Linked DNA regions of Homo sapiens: all the other regions are linked to region 1. Evidence: fine-mapped expression QTL. A gene starts in region 1. Each other region holds a variant in brackets. All regions are shown on one strand. Distances are between the middles of the regions. Region 1 holds the start of HECTD3 (HECT domain E3 ubiquitin protein ligase 3). Region 2 has its middle 21 kb from the start of LINC01144. Region 3 overlaps ZSWIM5 (zinc finger SWIM-type containing 5). Region 4 holds the start of LOC107984952 (a long non-coding RNA gene). Region 5 overlaps ZSWIM5 (zinc finger SWIM-type containing 5).

The links. PIP is the estimated chance that this variant, and not a neighbour inherited with it, causes the effect.
Region 2: its variant is fine-mapped to the expression of HECTD3 in whole blood (TOPMed, PIP above 0.99).
Region 3: its variant is fine-mapped to the expression of HECTD3 in whole blood (TOPMed, PIP above 0.99).
Region 4: its variant is fine-mapped to the expression of HECTD3 in skeletal muscle (FUSION, PIP 0.95).
Region 5: its variant is fine-mapped to the expression of HECTD3 in testis (GTEx, PIP 0.94).

What each region holds. Positions count from the first base shown.
Region 1 is chr1:45,008,177-45,013,277 of GRCh38, forward strand. HECTD3 (HECT domain E3 ubiquitin protein ligase 3) reads right to left here and starts at 3,148. Exons shown (of 21, transcript NM_024602.6): 1 at 2,713-3,148; 2 at 2,370-2,530; 3 at 2,025-2,117; 4 at 1,810-1,945; 5 at 1,392-1,507; 6 at 1,193-1,306; 7 at 968-1,050; 8 at 360-525; 9 at 64-145. The coding sequence starts at 3,081. It overlaps UROD (uroporphyrinogen decarboxylase), which reads left to right and starts at 4,078. Exons shown (of 10, transcript NM_000374.5): 1 at 4,078-4,109; 2 at 4,731-4,843; 3 at 4,960-5,039. The coding sequence starts at 4,090. RefSeq lists silencers at 2,815-2,984, 3,065-3,194 and enhancers at 3,955-4,004, 4,045-4,174.
Region 2 is chr1:45,280,274-45,285,374 of GRCh38, forward strand. No RefSeq gene overlaps it. Among named protein-coding and RNA genes, the nearest start is that of LINC01144, 21 kb to the right of the region's middle. The variant C/T (reference allele first, on the strand shown) is at 2,169.
Region 3 is chr1:45,101,322-45,106,422 of GRCh38, forward strand. All of the region lies in intron 1 of ZSWIM5 (zinc finger SWIM-type containing 5), which reads right to left. Among named protein-coding and RNA genes, the nearest start is that of UROD, 92 kb to the left of the region's middle. The variant G/A (reference allele first, on the strand shown) is at 2,410.
Region 4 is chr1:44,817,788-44,822,888 of GRCh38, forward strand. It overlaps PTCH2 (patched 2), which reads right to left. Exons shown (of 22, transcript NM_003738.5): 22 at 4,151-4,882. The coding sequence ends at 4,628. LOC107984952 (a long non-coding RNA gene) reads left to right here and starts at 2,692. Exons shown (of 2, transcript XR_001738036.3): 1 at 2,692-2,775; 2 at 3,444-4,207. It also overlaps the pseudogene RNU5E-6P. RefSeq lists enhancers at 1,312-1,968, 1,783-1,882, 1,913-1,962, 1,969-2,625, 3,282-3,939 and 1 more and a silencer at 1,873-2,592. The variant T/C (reference allele first, on the strand shown) is at 2,093.
Region 5 is chr1:45,031,485-45,036,585 of GRCh38, forward strand. It overlaps ZSWIM5 (zinc finger SWIM-type containing 5), which reads right to left. Exons shown (of 14, transcript NM_020883.2): 9 at 4,555-4,815; 10 at 4,204-4,339; 11 at 2,828-2,985. Among named protein-coding and RNA genes, the nearest start is that of UROD, 22 kb to the left of the region's middle. The variant C/T (reference allele first, on the strand shown) is at 2,927.

The DNA of each region.
Region 1 (5,101 bases):
AATGAACAACTACGTGAGCAGGAAGGGGAAATGCCAAGACCAGCACTGGCTGGGTCGGCTCACCTTAATCTCACTGAAGGTGCCCAGTGTGTGGTCCCAGGCAGGTACCAGGTGGTGCAGGACACTATCGAGGATCTTGATGAATCTGGCATGGGTAGATAGACTGCAGCTAAAGAGTTTAGCATACCTGTAACACCCCCAACTCCCCAACATAAAGGGACAGGAAAAGGCAGGACCTGGGGGCTTCTCTGACCCTTGAACAGCTTATACTATGAGACCTTGGGAACCTCCTCCATGCAGACACACAAGGCTCAATGTTGGGGGAAGGGAAGGGCCCATAGGTCCAGGACCACAGCCACCTCTGCAGGAGGACAGCTCTGCGGTACAGTACTTCAGGGTCGGTGCCTTCTAGGCGTGGATATCGCACCAGACTAGTTGGCTGGAACAGGTCTGCATTCAACCCTAGTTCCCGCTGTCTAGATGACTTGATCTTGACCCCTCGGAGACGAACATCAATCCCATCATCTGGGGGAAGGGGTCAGAGTAAGGTCATTTACAGCACCTGCTGCCTCCTTGGCCCTCAGACCTGGGACCGGCTCCTTGAACGCTCAGCCTTGTGTCACCGTTAGCCCCTAGAAACTCGGGACCTTCGGGATCACCTTCTATCACCTGATTCTGATTGATCTATTCCTGCTGATTCCTCTGTCTTCCACTAGAATGCTGGGATGCCTGAGGGTCCCAACTCAGTTCCTCTTCCAGGTGAGCCCAACCACCTGTATGGCTTTAAGGCAGGCCTATACCTGGCATGTCCCAGCTGGCTCAGGCCCCAAAGCTCCAAATCCTGGAGTTAGTTCAGCATCGCCTTCACCCCAACTCCAAGCCCATCCTCTTCTCTCCACACACACTCTCTGTTTGCCCCCATCTCCACGCCGGGCTCTCTTTCCCTCCTTATAGCCTTAAACCTCACCTCGGCACTCCACGATGCGGATCTCGATGATCGGGAGGTGGACGGTCATGTCCTCCAGGACACAGACATCCCCGATGAGGGTCCTGAGGAGATGAGTGTGAAGCACTTCAGATACCTCCTGCCTCAGGCCTTCAGAGACTGCTGGAGTCTCACTCAAACTTAGGCTTTCAAGCTGGGCTAGGCTTGGAACATGCCCTACTTCCCTCCCCAGGCCAGCGTGCTCACTCGTCAATGCTCACGTCACTCAGCTTCTTCAGGTTGTCCCCTTCACCCCCATAGACCACCACCCGCTTTGGCATAAAGTTGTCATCTGTGGTATCCACTGTGAGTAGCAGCTTCCTGAAGGGTCAGAGTGTGAATATGAGTCTTTGTGAACCCACAGGGACATAGCCCACCCACCCTGTCCTGCCCAGAGCCTACTTACTTGACAATGGTGCCCTTCTTCATAGTAAGCCGTACCCAGTGTTGGCACTGGGACCCATCGCTCTCCCAGTAGGTATCGGCATTGCTGTCTGTCAGGCAGGACACGTTGAACTCCTCCTGGGGAGGGGCAGAGACGTGAAGTCAGCAGTTACCCTCCCTCCCTGCACTGGGCTTGTGCTCTGGGCCAGGAGCACCAGAGAGAAAGCATAGTGAAGTTGGGCTAACAGGCAACTGGTATGGGATAGGGGGCCGCTGGGTATGTAAGGGGTCCTATAGACGTCCAAGATGGGGAGCTGAACTGAGTGTGGCCTGTGGGGACCCTGTTTTAGTCCTGGCCTGCAGGTGGGGGTTCTTTCTGGATCTAGCCTTGAGGGGTGTGACTATATCTTGCCTGGGGTGGGAGGAGCCCCAGCACCCACCGTGTAGGAGGAAACGTCTATGCTCTCCACATACTGCTTCACGCTACCCAGGTTCTCATCCTCCTTGCCCAGGTGGTCATACAAGAAGTGGATCAGGTCCTCGTCGCACTCGTAGGTCCATGTCGGGGGTACATAGCTAAGCAACCCCAAGCCCCTAATTAGACTGGGCCCAGACGCAGAGCTCCTTCCTCCCCACCCCATTCCAGCTCACTCACAGTAGCCTTTGTACAGCTTCTGCGTATGCCTCTGCCGGCTGAGGTCTCGATCCCAGGCGATGTGAGTATGTCAGGTCCACCACCTGTTCCCACCTGTGGGCACAGAGTAGGGAGTGGGATGGGGAGACATCAGCGGTCAGCAAGACACTACCTCCATGCCGTGTAGCCTTCTTCAGGGCTCTATCTCCCAGTCTCCCTCCGAGCCCCCTTCACGTCCCGCCCCTTTCTGCTCTTAACCCTGCCTCCGCTCCAGTATCCCACCCACCCCAGGCTGTGGCTGAAGTGTTCCCAAGCCCTCCTGGCCCGGCCTTCTGACAGCCAGCCCCGCTCCTTCAAGTGCAGTACCTGAGCACCGGCCGATAATCCACGCCAAAGAGCTGCTGCTGCCGCTGGAGGTGGTTGGGAGTGTCGATGGGTACCAGGCGGGCTCCGCCCTCCGCCGGGCGGCACACCAGCAGCCAGCCTTCCTGCAGCCCGCAGTCGCCCAGGTGCTCTGCCAGCTGCTCCTGCCGGGACGCGTAGGATGGGGACAGCCGTCAGGGAACTGCCCAGCCGCCTGTCGTGCCCAGCCCAGGGCAAAGGGCGCCGAACGCAATGCCAACTCAATACAGGGGAGAAAAGGCAAACAGCCAGAGGTTTCTCTGGCCCCAGGGGTCTTTTACCGGGTCCTGGGCAGGGAAGAGCGCACCTTTGTCAGCTTCACCCAGAGCCCGTGGCCATTGCACAGCTCCTCGCCCGTGGTGCGCACGCAGGCGCCGCGCCGGAGCTCAATGCTGTCGCGGGCGGCGCGGAGGGGCCCGGAGCCGGTACCGGGGGCTGGGCCTGCGGCGCCCACACGCAGCCCCAGGCCCTCTGCCTCCCACACCGGCAGAAGCACGCGCGACGGTCCCGCTGGGTCCTTGTAAAGCTTGTAGAGCACCTCTCGCGGCACGAAAGCCAGCGCTGCTGGCAGCGGCCGCCCGGCGCGGAGGCTCCGCGCTGCCTCTGCCAAGAAGCGCACGCGGCCCAGCAGCTGCCGGGGGGACTCCAGCACCGCGCCCGGGCCAGGACCCGCCATGGCGAAGTGGCGGAGGTGAGCACCTAGAGGCGACCCTGCCCGGGGAACAGCTGGCGCGACCGCGGACAGAGCTTCCCACCACGCCCTTCCCCGCCTTTGGCCAGCCTTTGCCGTATGTTCTGGACTAAGCGCACCCCAGCTCTCACTGTATTGGACTGTGTACTCCCACACTCAACCATATTACTTATCTCTGTGCCACCCTAACCCAGCCGACCAAACCCAAGATTGGTGATTGCTACCTGATCAATCTCCCTCTCTCCATTTCCTTGTGACTACCATTTTATCTCTACTGCTACTACCCTCATTCAAGTCACCATTCTAGCTAGCCTGGGTCATTGCCAACAGTCATTTTTCTGGTTCTTCGGCCTGCTGTTTTTCCTCCCACTCCCAGCGAATCTGCTGGACTCCCTATCCTATGGGTGGTGTGATTAAAGTGTTTGAGACAATGGCCCCTTCCCCTGCCACTGACAGGAGTCTTGAGTCATTAGGGTTGATTCTGTTTGTCACTCCTAATCCCAAGGACACTGGAGATCATTATTCATTTTAATGTGATTGCTGATTTCTGTTTCCCCAGTCTTGTAGCTCCTTAAAGGCTGGGGCTGTCTTGAGCAGAGCTAACCTCTGCACCTACTATAGGTCCAGGCTATAGTATGGACCTGGCTGGATAAGACTGTTGGTATCATGAGTGGGACTTGCGCCAAGCCTCCGGATACCCAGACTGTCAGATGAGAACAAATTCCTCATGTCACCGTAAGATACATTTACAGCGGAGTTTTCTTTTGGGCCTTTGTTGTTGCGTCGCTACAGCAAACTTTACGGTGAAAAAAGGTAGGGGTCCTACGGGCAGCAGCCAGGGCAGCCCTGGAGCTGTCGCTGGAGTCCGATCATGTGATCTTCAACATGGCGACGCTCTTGGTTCCCTACAGAAAGGGGCGGAGCCTGGACTGGGGGGCAGGCTCAGATTCAGGTTAAATTGTGGATTGAGCTCGCAGTTACAGACAGCTGACCATGGAAGCGAATGGGTTGGGGTGAGTTCTCCAGAGCACGCGGTGTGGCTAGCCGGGCTTCTAATTTGAGTCTTCCAACTCAGGACTCTATCCCTCTACTCCCCTTTCCCCACCCTGGAGACCTCCCAACCTGAACTCCGTTAGCTGGGATCCTGAATCCTAAAACCATGGATTTTTGAGATGTTCATCCCAGGGCCTTAATTCAAGGGATGCCTCAGGATTTCCAACCAGGATCTCTATTCTGGGACCATCAACTCTGATCCCTCTTTATCCCCCAGCCTGGGTATTTCTCAGCCCCTGAACCAGCCCAGTGACATTCCCGTTTCTGAGGCTCACTAGTTCGAAGACCCCCAAACTATCCTTAGTGGGCCTTCATTCCCTCCCCCCAGTCCCTCTGGTTGCTTCGAGCTTGGAAGAGTAGAGACTAAGTGGAGGGAAGAGGCCCCAGGGCGGGCCCTTCTGGAGTTTGTGCACCACCTGATAGGCAGAGAGGAGGCGGAACGGGCGGAAAGCCAGGGTTTGGGAGCTGGCCTGGAGGAGGTAGATAGCGGTCCTGGACTGAATCGGCCTTATGAACCCGCGCTTTCCCCAGCCTCCAGCGTAGCATACTGACACCTACCCCCACCCCCACCTGATCGCCAGACCTCAGGGTTTTCCGGAGCTGAAGAATGACACATTCCTGCGAGCAGCCTGGGGAGAGGAAACAGACTACACTCCCGTTTGGTGCATGCGCCAGGCAGGCCGTTACTTACCAGGTAAGAGTCAGGGTCTGGAAATCTAGATAAAACTCCGGAGGGAGAAAAGTTTTCGAGGGGCAGGGGAGGGCTCTGGAGGGCCTCAAGGCTGAGCCCTGTCTTCCCTCTGTATGCAGAGTTTAGGGAAACCCGGGCTGCCCAGGACTTTTTCAGCACGTGTCGCTCTCCTGAGGCCTGCTGTGAACTGACTCTGCAGGTGAGGGGTCCACAAAAGAGGGAAAGATTTATGCCTTCAGTCTGCCACCTAGCAACCTGTCT
Region 2 (5,101 bases), 270 kb after region 1:
TTCCTGTAATCATAGCACTTTGGAAGGCCAAGAGGGGAGAACCTCTTGAGGTGAGAAATTTGAGGCTGCAGTGAGCTATGATTGTGCCGCTGCATTCCAGCCTAGGTGTAGTGGCACAATCGTAGCTCACTGCAGACTCAAAGTGGCACAGCCATTATATCTAGGGATTTTCTTTCTTCCTTTTCTTTTTTCTTTTTTTTTTTTTTTTTTGTTGTTTTTTGAGACAGAGTCTCCCCTGTCTTCACTCTGGAGTGCAGTGGCACCATCTTGGCTCACTGCAACCTCCGCTTCCCAGGCTCAAGCTATCCTCCCACCCCTGTCTCTTAAGTAGCTTACAACAGAGCAAGACTCTGTCCATGAAAATATAAATAAATGGCTGGGTACGGTGGCTCACGCCTGTAATCCCAGCACTTTGGGAGGCCAAGGAGGATGGATCACCTGAGGTTAGGAGTTCAAGACCAGCCTGGCTAATGGGGCAAAATTCCATCTCTACTAAAAATACAAAAGTTAGCCAGGTGTGGTGGTGCGCACCTGTAGTCCCAGCTACTTGGGAGGTTGAGACAGGAGAATTGCTGAACCCAGGAGGCAGAGGTTGCAGTGAGCCGAGATCACGCCACTGCATCCCAGCCTGGGTGACAGAGTGAGACTCCGCCTCAAAAAAAATAAAAAATAAAATAAATAAATAAAAATTTTTAAAAATTCAGGCCAGAAGTGATGGCTTACACCTGTAATCCCAGCACTTTGGGAAGCTGAAGTGGGAGGATCACTGGAGGCCAAGAATTCAAAACCAGACTGGGCAACATAATGAGACTCTGTCTCCACAAAAAAACAAATACAAAATTAGCTGGGCATGGTGGTGGGTGTCTGTGGTCCCAGCTACTCTGGAGGCTGAAGTAGGAGGATCACTTGAGCCCAGGAGTTTGAGACTGCAGTGAGCCATGATCATGCTACTGCACTCCTGCTTGTGTTACAAAGCAAGACACAGTGTCAAAAAAAAAAAAAAAAAATTACTCAAGCCCTGTCCCACACAATGTGGAAGTCTGTGCTAAAAAACTTTGTGTTTTGTATATTCCTTGGAAAAATCTCGTGTTCCCCTTATCTCTGCTTCTCCTGTTCTCCAGCTCATGATGACTTCTCTATTTGACCTAAGGTTCTTCCTTGGACCTTCCCATCTTCTCATTTATTCTCCTCACTGACCCCCTCTCTCCAACTTTCTCAGGCCTATTCCCCCAGGCTGCCCCAAACTCCAAATTCCTCTCACTTCTTCCTTTCTTGAGCAGAGCAATTCTGCTCTCTTTATCTCATACCTCCCCCTCCCTTCCTTACCCCTCCCAAGAATCACTGGCTGTTTCCTCAATAAAAAGAACCACCTGGCCAGGCGCGGTGGCTCACGCCTGTAATCCCAGCACTTTGGGAGGCTGAGGTGGGTGGATCACTTGAGGTCAGGAGTTCAAGACCAGCCTGACCAACATGGTGAAACTCCATCTCTACTAAAAATACAAAATTATCTGGGCGTGGTGGCGCATGCCTGTAATCCCAGCTACTCGGGAGGCGGAGGCACGAGAATAGCTTGAACCCTGGAGGTGGAGGTTGCAGTGAGTGAGATCATGCCATTGCACTCCAGCCTCGGCAACAAGAGCGAAAAAACAAACAAAAAAGAACCACCTATCCGTGCTGCGAATGTTGTCCCTTCCCTGGAAGTGATAATAAGCCAGGAATTATCTTTCTGAAGAGCAACATTTTTCCTTCCCACTATTACATAGAGAAAATCATTCCTTTACCATCACCATCTGCCCATCCTCTGTGCCTCTCCATACACTGTTCCCTCTGCCTGGAACACCCCACACAATCCCCAGCACCGTCACTTGGCCCATCCATCATACGAAACTTCAAGTCTCCCTCAAACATTACGATCCCCAGCACCTCTTACATTTGCTGACTGAATAAATAAGTAAATTATGTCTTCTCAACTCTCAAATACAAACAGCATTCATCTCTGCAAAAAATCTTCAGCAAAAATAAAGCAAAATTGGCTCAGATTTAATCTCACGGGCCTCAAATTTTGAGCTACCCTTATCAGTAGTTTCTCCTCCTGCTGCTTTATTTCTAGAATTGTTATTAGCTCCTCCAAGGTGAAAGTTAGCCAAGACTGGATCATACTTCCCTTT[C/T]CTTCCTCATGTTCATTAACTCCTTTAATTCCTGTATTTCCAGGATGGAGCACGCTGCTTGTCAGAAACACAGCTGTTTCCCTGTGGTCTCTGTACCATTTTGTAAGACCTTTTTGGCATTTTGGCATTTGCTCAACATTTGTGGGTTTGCTTTCCTTCCTTTGCAAGTGAAATAGCTTCAATAGTAGCTAATAGCTAACAACACAATTCTTCTGATTTCTTAAAAATTATACTCTAGATCATTTGGAAAAGAGCTGCTTTCACATCGTAAGTAGCAAATTTAGAGAAAGGAATGCTCACATTTATCGAGATGTGGTCTTAAGGTAAAAACAGGTAACTATGCACTATGGCACTAATACTTTAATAATTATTTGTGTTGTTGATTCTAATGCTATTTTCCCATAGCATTCCCATATACATTGCAGATTAGCAAAGTAAATATTTCATCAGCCCCAATCTTCTAGAAAATGTCATATGTTTAACCCCTAACATATTGGTCATTTTTGTTGTTTCCCTTTTCAGTATTTTATAAAAAACATTTTGAAGTGTTTTCACAAAGTTTACAATTTCCTTTTTCTTTTCTTTTCTTTCTTTCTTTTTCTTTCTTTCTTTCTTTCTTTCTTTCTTTCTTTCTTTCTTTCTTTTTCTCCTTCCTTCCTTCCTCTCTCTCTTTCTTTCTTTCTTCTTTCTTTCTTTTTTTGATTTTGAGATAGGGTTTCCCTCTGTTACCCAAGCTAGAGTGCTGCGATCATAGCTCACTGCAACCTTGAACTCCTGGGCTCTAGTGATGCTCCTGCCTCAGCCTCCTGAGTAGCTAGGACTACAGACACATGCCACCATGTCTGACAAATTTTTTAAATTTTTTTTTGTAGAGGCCAGGCACTGTGGCTCACGCCTGTAATCATAGCACTTTGGGAGGTCTATGCAGGCAGCTCACTTGAGGTCAGGAGTCTGAGACCAGCCTGGCCAACATGGTAAAACCGTGTCTCTACTAAAAATACAAAAATTAGCTGGGCATGGTAGTGTGTGCCTGTAATCCCAGCTATTTGGGAGGCTGAGGCAGGAGAATCGCTTGAATCTGGGAGGTGGAGTTTGCAGTGAGCTGAGATGGCGCCACTGCACTCCAGCCTGGGCAACAGAGCGAGACTGCATCTAAAAAAAAAAAAGGGGGGGTTGTGTTTTATAGAGACAGGGTCTCACTATGTTGCCCAAGCTGGTCTCAAACTCCTGGCTTCAAGCGATCTTCCCACCTCAGTCTCCCAAAGTTCTGGGATTACAGGCAACAGCCACTGTGCCCAGACTCCTTTGCCCATTTTTAAATTTAGTTATTGTTTTCTCACTATTAGGTTGTATGAGTACATGTTCTTTAATTTTTTTCCCTTGCAAATCAACACAGAATGAACTGAATAAACACCAATGGGCATCCAAATTAGCATGAAGAGTCAGCATTTTCAGCATAACTTAATGGTGGCTATTGGATCTCAATTGTAATAAATTTATAAAATATGCATTTTGTCACCACTATCAGCAACTTCATTTTTCCATTTCCCACTTATTTATATAAAATACCAGTAAAATGCACAAAAAAATCAAATAGCTGTACAAATCATCTTGTACTGACAAAGTTGGCAAAACCAGAATTGCTTAGCACAGTATGAGATAAAAATGTTCACTTATCAGCAGATGTGCAAACATTCAACATGCTTTATTTAGGCCGGGTGCAGTGGCTCATGCCTGTAATCCCAGCACTTTGGGAGGCTGAGGCAGGTGGATCACGAGGTCAGGAGATCAAGACCATCCTGGCTAACACAGTGAAACCCCATCTCTACTAAAAAAAAAAATACAAAAAAATTAGCCTGCCGTGTTGGCAGGTGCCTCTAGTCCCAGCTACTTGGGAGGCTGAGGTAGGAGAATGGCGTGAACCCAGGAGGCGGAGCTTGCAGTGAGCAGAGATCGTGCCACTGCGCTCCAGCCTGGGCGACAGAGCCAGACTCCATCCCAAAAAAAAAAAAGCTTTATTTAGAGATATCAAAGTGTAATGTACAAAATTACAGGTTGTAATTAAGTCAAGAACTACCCCTACTTCTCTTTTGACCATCTTTTTTAAAGTTAATGACACTGGTTGGTGGAGCCAAGATGGCCGAATAGGAACAGCTCCCGTCTACAGCTCCCAGTGTGAGCAACACAGAAGACGGGTGATTTCTGCATTTCCAACTGAGGTACCGGGTACATCTCTCTGGGGAGTGTTGGACAGTGGGTGCAGGAGAGTGGGTGCAGTGCACTGAGCATAAGCTGAAGCAGGGCGAGGCATCGCCTCACCCGAGAAGTGCGAGGGGTCAAGGAATTCCCTTTCCTAGTCAAAGAAAGGGGTGACATACGGCACCTGGAAAATCGGGTCATTCCCACCCTAATACTGTGCTTTTCCAACGGTCTTAGCAAACGGCACACCAGGAGAATATATCCTGCGCCTGGCTGGGAGGGTCCTACACCCACAGAGCCTCCCTCATTGCTAGCACAGCAGTCTGAGATCAAACTGCAAGGCAGCAGCGAGGCTGGGGGAGGGGCACCTGCCATTGCCGAGGCTTGAGTAGATAAAGCGGCCAGGAAGCTCGAACTGGGTGGAGCCCACTGTAGCTCAAGGAGGCCTGCCTGCCTTCCTTTGTAGACTCCACCTCTGGGGGCAGGGCATAGCCAAACAAAAGGTAGCAGAAACCTCTGAAGACTTAAATGTCCCTGTCTGAAAGCTTTGAGGAGAGTAGTGGTTCTCTCGGCACGGAGTTTGAGATCTGAGAACAGACAGACTGCCTCCTCAAGTGGTTCCCTGACCCCCAAATAGCCTAAATGGGAGGCACCCCCCAGTAGGGGCAGACTGACACCTCACACGGCCGGGTACTCCTCTGAGACAAAACTTCCAGGGGAATGATCAGGCAGCA
Region 3 (5,101 bases), 93 kb after region 1:
CAAATCAAAACCACAATGAGATACCATCTCACACCAGTTAGAATGGTGATCATTAAAAAGTCAGGAAACAACAGATGCTGGAGAGGATGTGGAGAAATAGGAATGCTTTACACTGTTGGTGGGAGTGTAAACTAGTTCAACCATTGTGGAAGACAGTGTGGCGATTCCTCAAGGATGTAGAACTAGAAATACCATTTGACCCAGAGATTCCACTACTGAGTATATACCCAAAGGATTATAAATCATGCTACTATAAAGACACATGCACATGTATGTTTACTGCAACACTATTCACAATAGCAAAGACTTGGAACCAACCCAAATATCCATCAGTGATAGACTGGATTAAGAAAATGTGACACATATACACCACGGAATATTATGCAGCCATAAAAAGGACGAGTTCATGTCCTTTGCAGGGACATGGATACAGCTAGAAACCATCATTCTGAGCAAACTGTCACAAGGACAGAAAACCAAACACCGCATGTTCTCACTCATAGGTGGGAGTTGAACAATGAGAACACCTGTACACAGGGCGGGGAACATCATATCCCAGGGCCTGTCGTGGGGTGGAGGGCAGGGGAAGGGATAGCATTAGCAGAAATACCTAATGTAAATGACGAGTTAATGAGTGCAGCAAACCAACATGGCACATGTATACCTATGTAACAAACCTGCACATTGTGCACATGTACCCTAGAACTTAAAGTATAATAAAAAAAAAAAAACTGTGAACTATGTATTTTATATTTCTGTTACCTAACAGTCTGGCATAGAGTAAACATTTATAAAAGTGTTTGCTGAACTGAATTGCTTAAAATCATTCAATGGTTCTCCACTGATTACAAGATAAAGTTCAAACTTCTTACAATATGATTTCTTTCTATCTCTTCAGACTTGCTTCATACCACTCTCCCACATTCCAAACACACCAAACTATTTGCAGATTCTTGACTATGCTGTTTTCTCCATTTTCTTATCCTTTATGCCTTTGCATGTGAAGTTTCCTATACCAGGCATGACCTTCTCATTTCCTTCTCATGCTAATTCTTGACTCAAATGAGCCCCTACTCTGGGAAGTCTTCCCTCATCTTTTTGGACAGCTAGTTAAGTGCTTCTTCCTAAGCACTCATTTTTCATCAGTCATATCTCCATTATAGTACTTGACATCAATGTAATTGTCTTCACATTTATCGTTTCCCTTTAGATTGTGAGTTCCTTGAATAAGGGAGTTATGTATATCTTTTTCATCTCTATATTTTCATCTCAGGCACATGGTAAGGACTTAATAACTGACTGTGTATGGATGAATGAATAAATGAACACTAAACTGAATCTTTTACATATTTATATCTACAGTTCACAGAGGATTAAGCATGTTTATAAAATTCCTGATTTGTGATTAAAATAAGCCAGTAATTAAATAATTTTACTGAGACGGTGAGCAAAGTAACAATAATTTGTATATTTGGTATAATATTGAAACACCAAGATTATTTTCCATAATGTATGTATATAGATTTTTAAATTATTTATTTATTTATTTATTTGGTGGGGGTACAGGGTCTTGCTTTGTCGCCTAGGCTGGAATGTACTGGCATGATCACGGCTCACTGCAACTTCGACCTTCAGGGTCAAGTGATCCTCTCACCTCAGCCTCCCAAGCAGCTGAGACCACAGGCATGCGCCACCAATACCTGGCTAATTATTATTTTTTTAATGTTTGTAGAGATGAGTCTTGCTATATTGCCTAGGCTGGTCTCAAACTCCTGGTCTCAACTGATCTTCCTGCCTTGGCCTCCCAAAGTGCTGAGATTGAAGGTGTGAGCTGAGCCACCATGCCCGGCTCATAATTGATATTTATGCCTGTTATGCTTCTGCCAATTTTTATAACCTATTTTCAAAAATATAAAATACAAGCAGTTTTTATCAGCCAACATTTACTGGATATACTTACTACATGACAGATAGTATTCTAAGTGCTTCCCATGTATTAACTAATTAACTAATTAAATGCTCAAAGCAACCCTACAAAGTAGATTCTGTTGTTATTTCCCTGTTTCCGATAAGAAAACTAGGATAAGAGAGATAGAAGAACTTGTCTAAGATCACACAACCTGTAAAATGTAAAGTTGGGATCTGAACACAGGTAGTCTGGCTCCAGAGCCTATATTCTTAAGGACTACAATATATTAAATATGACTCTGAAGTTTAAATTTGTATACAAAACTTTGTAAAGGTAATTAGCAAGTGTAATTCTACAAAGACAGAGAGTCCTGCACTAATAACAAGTCAGTAAACTCTGACATTTGCCTGTTTTCCTGGGCAAATGTTCAAGGTAACTGAAACTGACAAGTGCTGTGATGCTCTCATAGTTGGAATGAAGGTGGGCTCATGAACTCATCT[G/A]TACAAGAAAATGTATCAGGACATGAGTGAATCATCTGCTTAGAGTTCTAAAGGAAAGCACTTCTCAGTGCAGCCCTTTGACACCATTCAAAGCCTTTTGTTTTTCTGAGTGCAAGAAAGGCTCTAGTAAAGCTTGGGCAATTAAAACCACTTTTCTCATTGCTCTTTTGATTCACCAGGCCCCTAGGCAGGTGTTAATGCATGAAAATGATTATCATTTCAGCCAATAGCAGGGAAAAGAAGAGATGTGGTTTATGAAAAGAATATTTTTTCTTATAGTCAGTTAAAAAGGATATGCAAATATATAAACTAAGTAACTTCTTTGACTGAGAAAGCTTCCTCTTGAATAAATTTGGTTTTGATGAAACTGCATAGTATAAATTAGACCTTCTCACTTAATTCCTGTCTCCCGGAAGGCCACAGCAGTATACCAGCAGAAGTAAAGCAGCCACTCTTTCTCTCCTTTTTGTCACTTAGCAAAACAGTAACCAGAACAATTAAAACAATGAGAGTGACATCTATAAAATAACTAATTTCCTTTCCAGAAAGCCTTTCTCAAAAGCTGGGTAACAACTGCCTAAACAAGAGCACTGGAATGGCTCCATATACTATCGATACAAACAGATTAGGAATCAGAATGCTTGAGTTGTAATTCTAGTACCCCTCAATTCCTCTTTGCCTCAGTTTCTTAATTATGCAAATAGACATAATACTACTTAGCTGCCTATCAGACTCATGTGAAAGTAATTTGTAAAGAACACATTTCCCAAAGATATCATTCAATAGCAATCCCAACTGGCCACGCCTGGGGCCTATATAAGTTCACAAGAAGCAGATGGTGCCCAAACACTGGGTGAGGGTGCGAGAGATTGCAAAGTGAGGAGCAGTATTGTTATTTGGGAATACAAATGATGCTGCCCCATTACCCTGAGAACTACTTGGTTTGTTTGTATTATAGAGGTCACCCTAAGCTTCTCAGAGCAGCTGAGTAAGCTAGAGGGCCCTTCTTGCGGCCATCTGCTCCCCTCCCAGACTCCTCTGGCAAATCAAGTGGTTTTCCCTGTATTAACCTCCGAAGAACAGCCATTGGCCCCCCTCAGCACCAGCTTCAGCAGCCAGTGGTCTCTGTTCTCCATCTGTACCAGAAACCACAGTTCAAGAACAATGAGGCTTCCGAAGCCCAGGTATTCACTTACAGCGATAACCTTGCATTTACCTAGTTTTCTAGTGTTCTTTCACTTGTGCCCCTACAAGGAAATTAGATGTGTATTTTAAAAGACTGAGATCTTCGGCTCGCCGCAACCTCCCTGCCTTGGGCTCCGGTGATTCTCCTGCCTTGGCCTGCCGAGTGCCTGGGATGCCAGGCACGCGCCGCCACTCCTGACTGGTTTTTGTATTTTTGGTGGAGACGGGGTTTCACCGTGTTGACCAGGCTGGTCTCCAGCTCCTGGCCTCGGGTGATCTCCCCGCCTCAGCCTCCCGAGGTGCTGGGATTGCAGACGGAGTCTCGCTCACTCATGCTCAATGTTGCCCAGGCTGGAGTGCAGTGGCATGATCTCGGCTCGCTACAACCTCCACCTCCCAGCCGCCTGCCTTGGCCTCCCAAAGTGCTAAGATTACAGCCTCTGCCTGCCTGCCACCCCGTCTAGGAAGTGAGCAGCGTCTCTGCCCGGCCGCCCATCGTCTGGGATGTGAGGTGTGCCTCTGCCCGGCCGCCCCGTCTGGGAAGTGAGGAGCGCCTCTGCCCGGCCGCCCCGAATGGGAAGTGAGGAGCGCCTCTGCCTGGCCGCCCCGTCTGGGATGAAGTGAGGAGCGCCTCTGCCCGGCTGCCCCGAATGGGAAGTGAGGAGTGCCTCTGCCTGGCCGCCCCCTCTGGGAAGTGAGGAGCGCCTCTGCCCGGCCGCCCTGTCTGGGAGGAAGTGAGGAGCACCTCTGCCCAGCTGCCCCGAATGGGAAGTGAGGAGTGCCTCTGCCTGGCTGCCCCCGTCGGGGAAGTGAGGAGCACCTCTGCCCCGCCGCCACCCCATCTAGGAAGTGAGGAGTGTCTCTGCCTGGCTGCCCATTGTCTGGGATGTGAGGAGAGCCTCTGCCCGGCCGCCCCGTCTGGGATGTGAGGAGCACCTCTGCCTGGCCGCCCCATCTGAGAAGTGAGGAGCACCTCTGCCCGGCCGCCCCGTCTGGGAGGAAGTGAGGAGCGCCTCTGCCCAGTTGCCCCAAATGGGAAGTGAGGAGCGCCTCTGCCCGGTTGCCCCGAATGGGAAGTGAGGAGCGCCTCTGCCCGGCCGCCCCGTCTGGGAGGTGAGGAGCGCCTCTGCCCGGCCGCCCCGTCTGGGAGGTGAGGAGCGCCTCTGCACGGCCGCCCCGTCTGGGAGGTGAGGAGCGCCTCTGTCCGGCTGCCCCGTCTGGGAGGTGAGGGGCGTCTCTGCCCGGCCGCCCCGTCGGGGAAGTGGGCGCCTCTGCCCGGCCGCCCCCTCTGGGAGGTGAGGGGCGTCTCTGCCCGGCCGCCCTGTCTGGGAGGTGAGGAGCACCTCTGCCCCGCCCCCTCTGGGAGGTGGGGAGCGCCTCTGCCTGGCCGCCCATCGTCTGGGAGGTGGGGAGCGCCTCTGCCCGGCTGCCCCGTCTGGGATGTGGGGAGCGCCTCTGCCCGGCCACCCCATCTGGGAAGTGAGGAGCGCCTCTGCCCGGCCGCCCC
Region 4 (5,101 bases), 190 kb before region 1:
CAGATTTAGTTTAAAAGAATAATTTGGGCTGGGCATGGTGGTTCCTGCCTGTAATCCCAGCACTTTGGGAGGGTGAGGTGGGCGAATCACTTGAATCTGGGAGTTTGATACCAGTTCGGGCAACATGGCGAAATCCCGTCTCTACAAAAAATACAAAAATTAGCCAGTGTGGTGGCACGCGCCTGCAGTCCCAGCTACTTGGGAGGCTGAGGTGGGAGAATTGCTTGGATCTGGGAGGTGGAGGTTGCAGTGAACTCAGATTGCGCCACTGCACTCCAGCCTGAGATTGTGCCACTGCACTCCAGCCACTGCACTCCAGGAAGACCCTCTCAGAAAAAAAAAAAAAAGAATTTGGCCGTTATGTGGAGGACTGGAATTGAGAAGGGCAAGAGCGAGGTAGAAGAGTGGTCTAGGGAGAACAGTTAGGGGCTATTGCAATTATCCAGCAAGAGATCTTGGACCAGGATGGCAGCAGTGGAGGTGGTAAAATGTGGTTGGATGAAGCGTACGCTTTGAAGGTATCAACAGGACCAGCTGATGGAAGGGAGTCAACAGGACTAGCTGATGGCTGTAAACTGGGGGGTCACTAGCTATCAGATGGCATTTACTTAAAGCCATGGAAGTAGGTGAGCTCCCTTATGGAGAGGGAATAGGAAGGAGGTAGACCATTCTATCAAAATGCTCTTTCTACAGGGCACTTCTCACTGAGATATTATTTATCTGGGATTTATATTATTTATTCAATTTGTTTTGTGTTTGGTTCTATTAGAAAAGCTCCATAGGGGCCGGGCACGTTGGCTTTTGCCTGTAATCCCAACACTTTGGAAGGCCGAGGCAGGCGGATTACCTGGGGTCAGGAGTTTGAGACCAGCCTGGCCAACATGGTGAAACTCTGTCTCTACTAAAAACACAAAAATTAGCCGGGCGTGGTGGTGCGCCTGTAATCCCAGATGCTGAGGAGGAGAATCGCTTGAACCCGGGAGGTGGAGGTTGCAGTGAGCCGAGATCGCGCCACTGCACTCCAGCCTGGGCAACAAGAGCGAAACTCCCTCTCAAAAACAAACAAACAAACAAACAAACAAACAAAAAACAAAAAAAAGAAAGAAAGAAAGAAAAGGGCCAGGTGTGGTGGCTCACACCTGTAATCCCAGCACTTTGGGAGGCTGAGGCAGGCGGATCACGAGGTCAGGAGATCGAGACCATCCTCACCAACACGGTGAAACCCCGTCTCTACTAAAAATACAAAAATTAGTCGGGTGTGGTGGCGGGCGCCTGTAGTCCCAGGTACTCCGCAGGCTGAGGCAGGAGAATCGCTTGAACCCGGGAGGCGGAGGTTGTAGTGAGCCGAGATTGAGCCACTGCACTCCAGCCTGGGTGACAAAGTGAGACTCCATCTCAAAAGAAAAAAGCTCCATAGGAGAAGGAACCTTGTCTCTTCACCACATAAACTGTGTTTGGATTCGCAATCGAGTTGGGAAAAAAAAATCAGTCTGGAAGAGCCACACCAAACCGCTAACAGCTACTGTCTCTGGGAATAGAACAAGGAGTTTGGTTGGCGCGATATACCGCCCCTGAACCTCTAGCCACAATAAGGCTTAATTAATGACCGGACGACTTGAAAGCGCCTTCCACTGTTTATCTCTTAAATCTGCAACGAAATGCAACAAAAACGCAAGAAATAAACAATAGAAGCCAGTCTTACTGCACACTGCAGAAGCCAATAAACCCCAAATGTAGCTCAAAACAAGGTGTCACGCAAACTTCTGATTTTTTTTTGTTTTACACTGAATCTCTGTCACTCTGACTAGAGGGCAGTGGCGCGATCTCGGATCACTACAACCTCCGTCTTCTAGAGTCAAGAGACTCTCCCGCCCCAGGAGTCTCTGCCACTCTGACTAGAGGGCAGTGGCGCGATCTCGGATCACTACAACCTCCGTCTTCTAGAGTCAAGAGACTCTCCCGCCCCAGCTTCTCCAATAGGTGGGATTGCAAACAGGCACCACCACGCCCGAATAAGTTTGTGAACATTTGGTACAAATAACAAATGACCAAGTTCCTTGGTTGTAGTTGCCTAACTTTTAATACTTAAAAA[T/C]GTAGCCTCAGGAAATAAGAGGCCTCAAAAAATTGAATAAAAACTCACAACTTTCTCTCCACGGAAATCTTTAGTAAAAGGCGAAAGATTTATGCGCTTTGAAGAGAAACCCGAGTATATTCGTGACTTCCGCTTCGAACCTCGCAGGGAGAACTAACACTTAACACACTTATGGTTGTTGGATGCCTGCGTGGTACGCACTCCCTATATGTAGTTTATGCACACAGATGCGTGTAAGAGGCATCATGCTCTAAAACAGTGCAGAAATGCGCGCACAGAGGGAGTGCAAGCATCTTGAGGGTATCTTTTCGTGGTGCACCATGGGTATGCAAATCACAGGCGGCTCCGGGCTGTTCCGCGCCACCGGGGAAGCCATGGGTCACTGATCTCCTTTGCTCTCCTATGCTCCTCTCTGCTGGTCCTCCTGGGACCCGCACCCCGTGGGCGGCGCCGGGTGCGGAGTCCTTTGCGGAGCTGGTGTTCGTCCCAGGGGTTAAGGTCCTGTCCCGCCGTCCTTACCCGCAGTAAGCCTCCGGGCTTAGAGAGAGGGACGGGGAAACAGACGGGCACAGACACTCAGGGGCACTGGGACCTCACAGGAGGCACGACCCCACCCCTCCTGGAGGAGATGGCATCCGATCCAATTCACCTCGAAGGGTGATATGGGGTCACATCAAGGGGAGGTGAGAAAGTGTTCTAGGCAGAGGGAATGGCGTATGAGAAATTAGGGACCCGAAGACCAATTCAGCCTGTCCAGACAGTGGCGCTCCGTGTGTCTGATGAGGGGGTGCTGGGGTGGGAGGCAGAGGCTAGATCTCCTCGGGCCTGGAAAGATGAAGATGAGGAGGCTTAGTGAGGCTGGCTAACTTGCCCAGGGTTACTCCGCTGGTAAGTGGCACTGAGGGCTGACCCCCTTTGCACTATTCTGGCCTGGTGAGCTCTCTCTGCTCCACCTAGAAGGCCCTTCTTGGTGACCCAAACACTGCTGGACCCAAATGCAGCCTCCCTCCCTTGGGCCTGCTGGTTGCACCCCCTACTCTAGGTTCTCTGCCAACTACCCGCTTCTCTTGAGCTTTTTAGGCATTTTAGCGTGGATTCAATTGCAATAGGCGTTTTTTGTTGTTGTTGTTTTTGTTGTTGTATCTTTTGGTCAGAACATGATTTCCTGGCCTTTGTCCAGGTGGGGTGGGATGTGAGAACGCATTGTTCCTGGGGTGGGATCATTCCTGGTGAGTGGGTGGTTGGAGCCCAGGGTCTATGTGAACTAGACTATGGGTCCTAAGCTATGGCTGGGAAGGGGCAGTTGCAAACCTCCCCACGCCTCTAGGTGAGGCTCTGTGCTCTATTCCAGGGCTGTGGCCACTCTTCAAGGCCTCTGCTTAGTGGAGCTGTTCAACTTTCACAGAACAAACAACTTACGCTGTGTCCTCACTAACTGCTAGCACCTCAGTTTCTGAGCAGTTCCCGCAACTGATCCACTGGCTGACTGGCCAAAGACACCTCTCGGCTGTCAGGACAACCAACTTACAGAGGCCTTTGCCTTGGAGGTTGCTCTGGAACCTGGCTCCTTTCCCTGGGTCCACAAACCTCCTGAGAAGCTCCCCAGACCCTGTTGACCTCTCTCTGCTTCAACTGGCTGCTTTCCTGATCTGCCTCCACCTCGCCTTCCACCTGCTGCATGGCTTTGCCCCTCTGCCTTGCCGTTTCCCGTGCGGGTGAAGCAGGTAGGTGGAGGTGAGTCTGGAGAGACGGGCAGGCTGGAATATGGTGGCTCTGAAAGCCACACAGTGGGGTTCTTTTTTTTCTGCTCTCGGTCTCCAGATTGAACCCAGTAGGATTTCACACCAACAAAATTTGTTATCGTTTTGTATAGTAAGCACTTAATCCAGATGATGTTACCAAGTATATGACAAAAATCCAGAATCTGGGGTCTTTTCCACCCAGAACTAGAGAAGCTAATACCTCAGGTCCTGGCACCAGAGAAGCTCCTTCCAATAGCTAATGTTCACTTGCAAACTCCCCACTCTGTCCAAAAAAAAGCACTGAAGTCATCTGAGATTAGTTCACATAGAATATATTTCATTCTTTAAAAAATAAAACTTTCATCATAGCTAACATGTATGTATACTACAAAAATAGACATTTTCATATAAATAATGGATGTGGTAGGAGGTGGGCAGGGATATGGAGAGCCTGCCCAGGAGTCACCAGACGGAAGGGTGCTGGAGGGTCCCTCAGGCTTGGTCAGCTGGGCAGGCAGTGGTGTGGGGTGGGAAGGGGGACAGGGCTGCACTGCAGCCCCAAGTGCCAGCTTTCACTCTCAAGTGACACAGATACAGGCTCACACAGGCCTGGATGTGCAAATCGGTGGCTGTTCTGTATGGATATCAGGGAGGCCCATGACAGCTGGGTCGGGAGAGGGGATGCAGCAGCAGCAGGGCCCTCCAGGGGTCCATCCTGCGTCTAACACCAGACCCAGTGCTTCCCAGTGACCCCACACGCCCCACACATGGTCTCTGTGCTTCAGCTGCTCTTTCACCCAGTGGCTGGACCTGGTCCCCTGGAACTGAGGTTGCCAGAGCTAGTGGCAGCAGGGGACCAAGGGGGCTCATCAGGGGCTGGATGGATGTAGGCACCAGGCAGGGGGGGTGGGTGGATGGCCACGGTCATGGAGGTAGTCACTCTGGCAAAGCTCTGGGGCAGGGAGGAGGATGCCCCCCACCTAAGCCCGCCTCCCTGTGGAGCTGGTGGACTCAGGATCTCTGGGCTTTCCTTGTACATCTGTATCACCTGTGGGGAGACACCAGCCCCAGTAAGCCCACGGGCCCCTGGGGCTCCCGTCCCCTTTAGCATCTCGCTGGGGATTACCATGACTGTTGGGAAGCTGGGGCCCTTGTTGGTCTCCAGCAGGATATGAGAGCTGGCAGGCGACAGGATGTTGAGGCCTGGGGCAAACCCTGCACCTTGTTCTGGATCCTAAAAGTCTAAGGTGGGTCCCATGAAGAAGCC
Region 5 (5,101 bases), 23 kb after region 1:
CTCTCATTTTTATTATTTCCTTCCCTATGCTTACCTTGGGTTTTCTTTTTCTGACTTCTTAAAGTGAAATCTGGGCTGGGCACAGTGGCTAACGCCTGTAATCCCAGCACTTTGGGAGGCTGAGGTGGGCGGATCACGAGGTCAGGAGATCGAGACCATCCTGGCAAACACTGTGAAATCCCACCTCTACTAAAAATACAAAAAAATTAGCCGGGCGTGGTGGCGGGCACCCGTAGTCCCAGCTACTCGGGAGGCGGAGGCAGGAGAATGGCATGAACCTAGGGGGTGGAGCTTGCAGTGAGCGGAGATCACGCCACTGCATTCCAACCTGGGCAACGGAGTAAGACTCCATCTCAAAAAAAAAAAAAAAAAAAAGTGAAATCTGAGATCACTGATTTGAAGCATTTTTCATTTATTGCTAAAAATTTATAAGTAAAACCTTAGCTACATTCTACAAATTTTGACTTGTGCTTTCATTTTCATATAGTCAAAAGATTTTCTAATTTTCTTGTGATTTTTTTCTTTGCTCCATGAGTAATATACACGTATGTGGTTTAATTTCCAAAAACTTAAGATATTTTAAAATATCTTTTTATTATCGAATTCTAATTGAACTGTGGTTGTCTGAAAAAGATTTTTAGTTCATCTCTCTTTTTTTTAAGAGTCAGGGTCTTGCTCTGTCACCCAGGTTGGAGTGCAGTGTCATGATGGTAGCTTACTGTAGTCTCTTAACTCCTGGGCTTGAGCAGTCCTTCTGCCTTAGCCTCCTGAGTAGCTGGGACTACGGGTGCTTGCCAGTACACCTGGCTAATTTTTAAAATTTTTTGTAAAGACAGGATCTTGCTATGTTGCTCAGGTTAGTCTCAAACTCCTGGTCTCAAGTGATCCTTCTGCCTTGGCCTCCTAAAGTGCTGGGACTACAGGTGTGAGCCACTGCACCTGGCCTCATCTTTGTTTCTGAAATATATTTTCATTGGTATAAAATTCTAGTTTGACAGTTTTTGTTTTTTTTTTTTTTTTGAGACAGAGTCTCACTCTGTCACCCAGGCAGGAGTTCAGTGGTGCAACTCGGCTCACCGCAACCTCTGCTTCCCAGGTTCAAGCGATCCTCGTGCCACAGCCTCCTGAGTAGCTGGGACTACAGGTGTGCACTACCACGCCCAGCTAATTTTTGTATTTTTAGTAGAGACAGGGGTTTCACCATGTTGGCCAGGATGTTCTCAAACTCCTGATCTCAAGTGATCTGCCCGCCTTGGCCTCCTAAAGTGCTAGGATTATAGGTGTGAGCCACCGTGCCTGGCCTGATAATTTTTTTTTTTTTTAAAGTACTTTAAGGGTTTTTTTTCCCACTGTTTTCTGGCTTACATTGTTTCTAATGAGAAATCTGTTCCCATACTTGTTTTTTTGTCCTTTGTAATGTATCTTTTTTACTCTGATTGCTTTTAAGTAGATTTTCTATTATTGGTTTTAAGCATTTTGGTTATGATGTGCCATGGTATAGTTTTCTTCATGTTTATTATGCTTGTGGTTCATTGATTTCCTTAGATCTGTAGTCCTCCTCCTTATCCTGCTTGGAATCTGATACTCCATGCAGGCTACCGCCACTCCCCACTTGACACTCCTCACATGAATGCACATTATCAGATTTGTTTTTTGCCAATAAGATCAGTAAAAAATGTTATCTCAGGCTAATTTTAATTTGTATTTCTAATGTGATACCAGGTATTTTAGTTGTCTAAAAACGATTTGTATCTCCTTTTCTGTGAACTGTCTGATCATATGCTTTGTTCTATTTTTGTATTTGTTTGCTGATCATTTTTATATTAATTTATATGTAACTTTTACCTTTTCTCTAATAAGCATGTATTTTTGGGGGGACAATAAGAAGATACCACATAAAGTTATTTTTAATTAAAAAATAACTTCAAAATCCATGTAGTTTCCTGGTCTAAAATATTCAGGAGCTCATGGTGGCTAGCATTTTATCATAGCTCCTTCTTATATAGGGGCTTACTTTCACTTCTGTTTGTGGTGAAACCTGCATAGCTAACAGGATGTATGTGAGCTTAAAGGCCTGAGAATCACTTTGGACTGCCTATCTTTTACCAGGGCACTGAAAAAAAAATCACCAACTCTTATATCTGTAAGGAGTTCAGCTCTATCTTAGTCATCACTTCATTAGATCTTCCAGTGGCCCTGGGAGGCTGACAGGTCATTGACAATGATCCCCATTTTATAGATTTGAAACTGAGGCGTAGAAAGGTGAAGTGATTTTATCAAACAGAAGGTTAGACTTAGAAGTACCTTAAAGATCATTTAATTTTACATATTTGGTATCCTACAATTAGTAACTAGGGTAAAGTTTTGGCTTGGATCCAGGTGCTTTTTTTTTTTTTGAGACGGAGTCTTGCTCTGTCACCCAGGCTGGAGTGCAGTGGCACGATCTTGGCTCACTGCAAGCTCTGCCTCACGCCATTCTCCTGCCTCAGCCTCCCGAGTAGCTGGGACTACAGGCGCCCGCCACCACGCCCGGCTACTTTTTGTATTTTTAGTAGAGATGGGGTTTCACCATGTTGGCCAGGATGGTCTCGATCTCTTGACCTCGTGATCTCCCGCCTCGGCCTCCCAAAGTGCTGGGATTACAGGCGTAAGCCACCGCGCCTGGCCAGGTGCTCTTTCTAATGGCAGCAATCAAAGTGAGGACCACTATCACTCTAAATGGTCAAGGAGCTTCTCTTTCTCAGGAGACTGCAGGCCAAGCCTTTGACATGCCATGGTTGGGCAGGCAGACGGGTGATGCTGGAGCTTAAGGTCTATCTATGCTCACCTTTGGCAGCAGTCAGCATGGTGGAGGCCAGTTCACACTGCTGTGATTCCAAGTGTCCAAGCGTGAACCAGCGAGGATAACGGCTGGGCACCACAGACA[C/T]CATATGGTGAGGGTGGGATGTGTCGCCTGCAGAAGCTGAGTTTTCTAAAACAGGTAACCTGGAAGACCCAGGAAGAATCATCAGCCACCATCCAGACCCTGGGCTTCCGAGCCACCTTAGAGAAGCTTGCTCTTTGCTGGGGAGGAACTGGGGAGAGGAAAGGATTAACTAAGAGCTTTGAAGGTTTTTAAACCTATGGTACTATACACTATATGAGGTGAGTGCCTGGGCACTTAAGAGTACTCAACGCTGAATAGTTTCCACTACAAATGGATGTGAAAGGCCGTTCAAGAGCTATCGGGTTGAATAGTATGATATATTGTAAAAAGAGAGAAAAGTTAATACATTTTTAAAAAGAATCATAGGGTTGTTTATTTTATTTATTTTTGAGACAGTGTCTCTCTCTGTTGCATAGGCTGGAGTGTAGTGGCATAATCACAGCTCACTGCAGCCCCGACCTCCCAGGCTCAAGCGATCCTCCCACCTCAGTCTCTTGAGTAGCTGGGACTTCAGGTGTGCACCAACATGCCTGGCTAATTTTTGTATTTTTTGTTTTTGTAGAGATGGGGTTTCACCATGCTGCCCAGGCTGGTCTCAAACTCCTGGGCTCAAGCAATCTACCTGCCTCGGCCTCCCAAAGTGCTAGGATTATAGGCTTGAGCCACCGTACCCAGCCTGGTTATTTCTAAAAGTATAAGAAATACATGCCAAGGAATTTCCTGTTTTAGCTAAGGTATTCTCCCAGCCTTACAGTCTGACTAAAATTCTTCTTCTGTATAGTCTGCTACATCCCAGAGGTTTAACTGCCTAAACCAAGGATCCTATTCTAGCCTGGAAACAAGATGCCCATAGCTCATTGTTCTCAAGTCTTGGGGTAAACATATTTATCTCTACTTCCCCCAGCTTCTTCTGGGGACCTGTGCCTGGGAACCTTGACTGAGTTGAACTACAGAAGGGCTCAGACCCCTTCTCAGCTTGCCTGAATAACCACTGAACAGGAAGACTCAGGTCTTAAGTGCTCCTTATTTATTAACATCTCAGGGGCTTCCTCAGACAATCAACCATGAGTACTGCCAGGGAACCAAGTCACCAACAAGGAATCCAGATATGAATCCTAGATCATATAAAAATATCTGAGCCATTTTAAGGTACACTTGGTAGCGGGTCCAACAGAATGACAAAGAGGGAAAGAAAAGAAAGTGAAATAAGCAATGAAAAAGAGCACTGGACACTTCTGCTTTGGTGGAGGCAATTGGACTGGGAAAGGGCTACCCACCTCATGGCACGTAAGGCTAATTTATAGGACAGGTCTGGATCATGAGGCAGCAGAGCTGAGAACAAATACTTGGCAAAGGTATGCATGGGAACACTCTCTCGGTGGATGACTTCTCCCAGACCGCTGAAAGGACCTCCTGGAGGAAGATAAGCCAGCCAGTTATTTATCTGTATGCTTCCATCTGCCAGCCTGGACTTGAGCCCCAGTATCTCATGCATGTTTGCTAATCATGGGAACCTTCATTCACTACATTTTAATGTCATAAATGTTCCTGTACTTGTACTCTATTGGAGAGGGGAGCTCAGGGTCATGGGCCAAAGACACCGTGACAAGAGACTCTTTTCTACTTACCTTCCAGCAGTAAGATGCATTGTTTTTGCAGTGTTTGCACTAGCTCATCGTCCAGCTGCAGCTCTTGGAGTTGGCTCAGGAGCTGCTCCTCATTACGGCATACCTTGTCCTGTGCGTAGAGGCCTTCAGGCATTAACCTCTGTTGACCCAGGCCCATCAGTGCAACTTCCAGGGCCAATGACAGGTAGGACTCACTGCTGTTTGGGGAGCCTGCAGCCACAGGTACATGCTGGTACACAGGGGGTCTGCTTTCATTCATATCTGAGGGCAACAGGGCACCAAATTCTTTAGGTTAGGCTTGGTAGAGTCTTCTTTCTTTTTTTTTTTTTTTTTTGAGACAGAGTCTTGCTCTGTTGTCCAGGCTGGAGTACAGTGGTGCAATCTCAGCTCACTGCAGCCTCCGCCTCCCCGGTTCAAGCGATTTTCCTGCCTCAGCCTCCCAAGTAGCTGGGATTACAGGAGCATGCCACAACACCTGTCGAATTTTTGTATTTTTAGTAGAGGGGCGGTTTCATCATGTTGGCCAGGCTGGACTCAAACTCCTGAC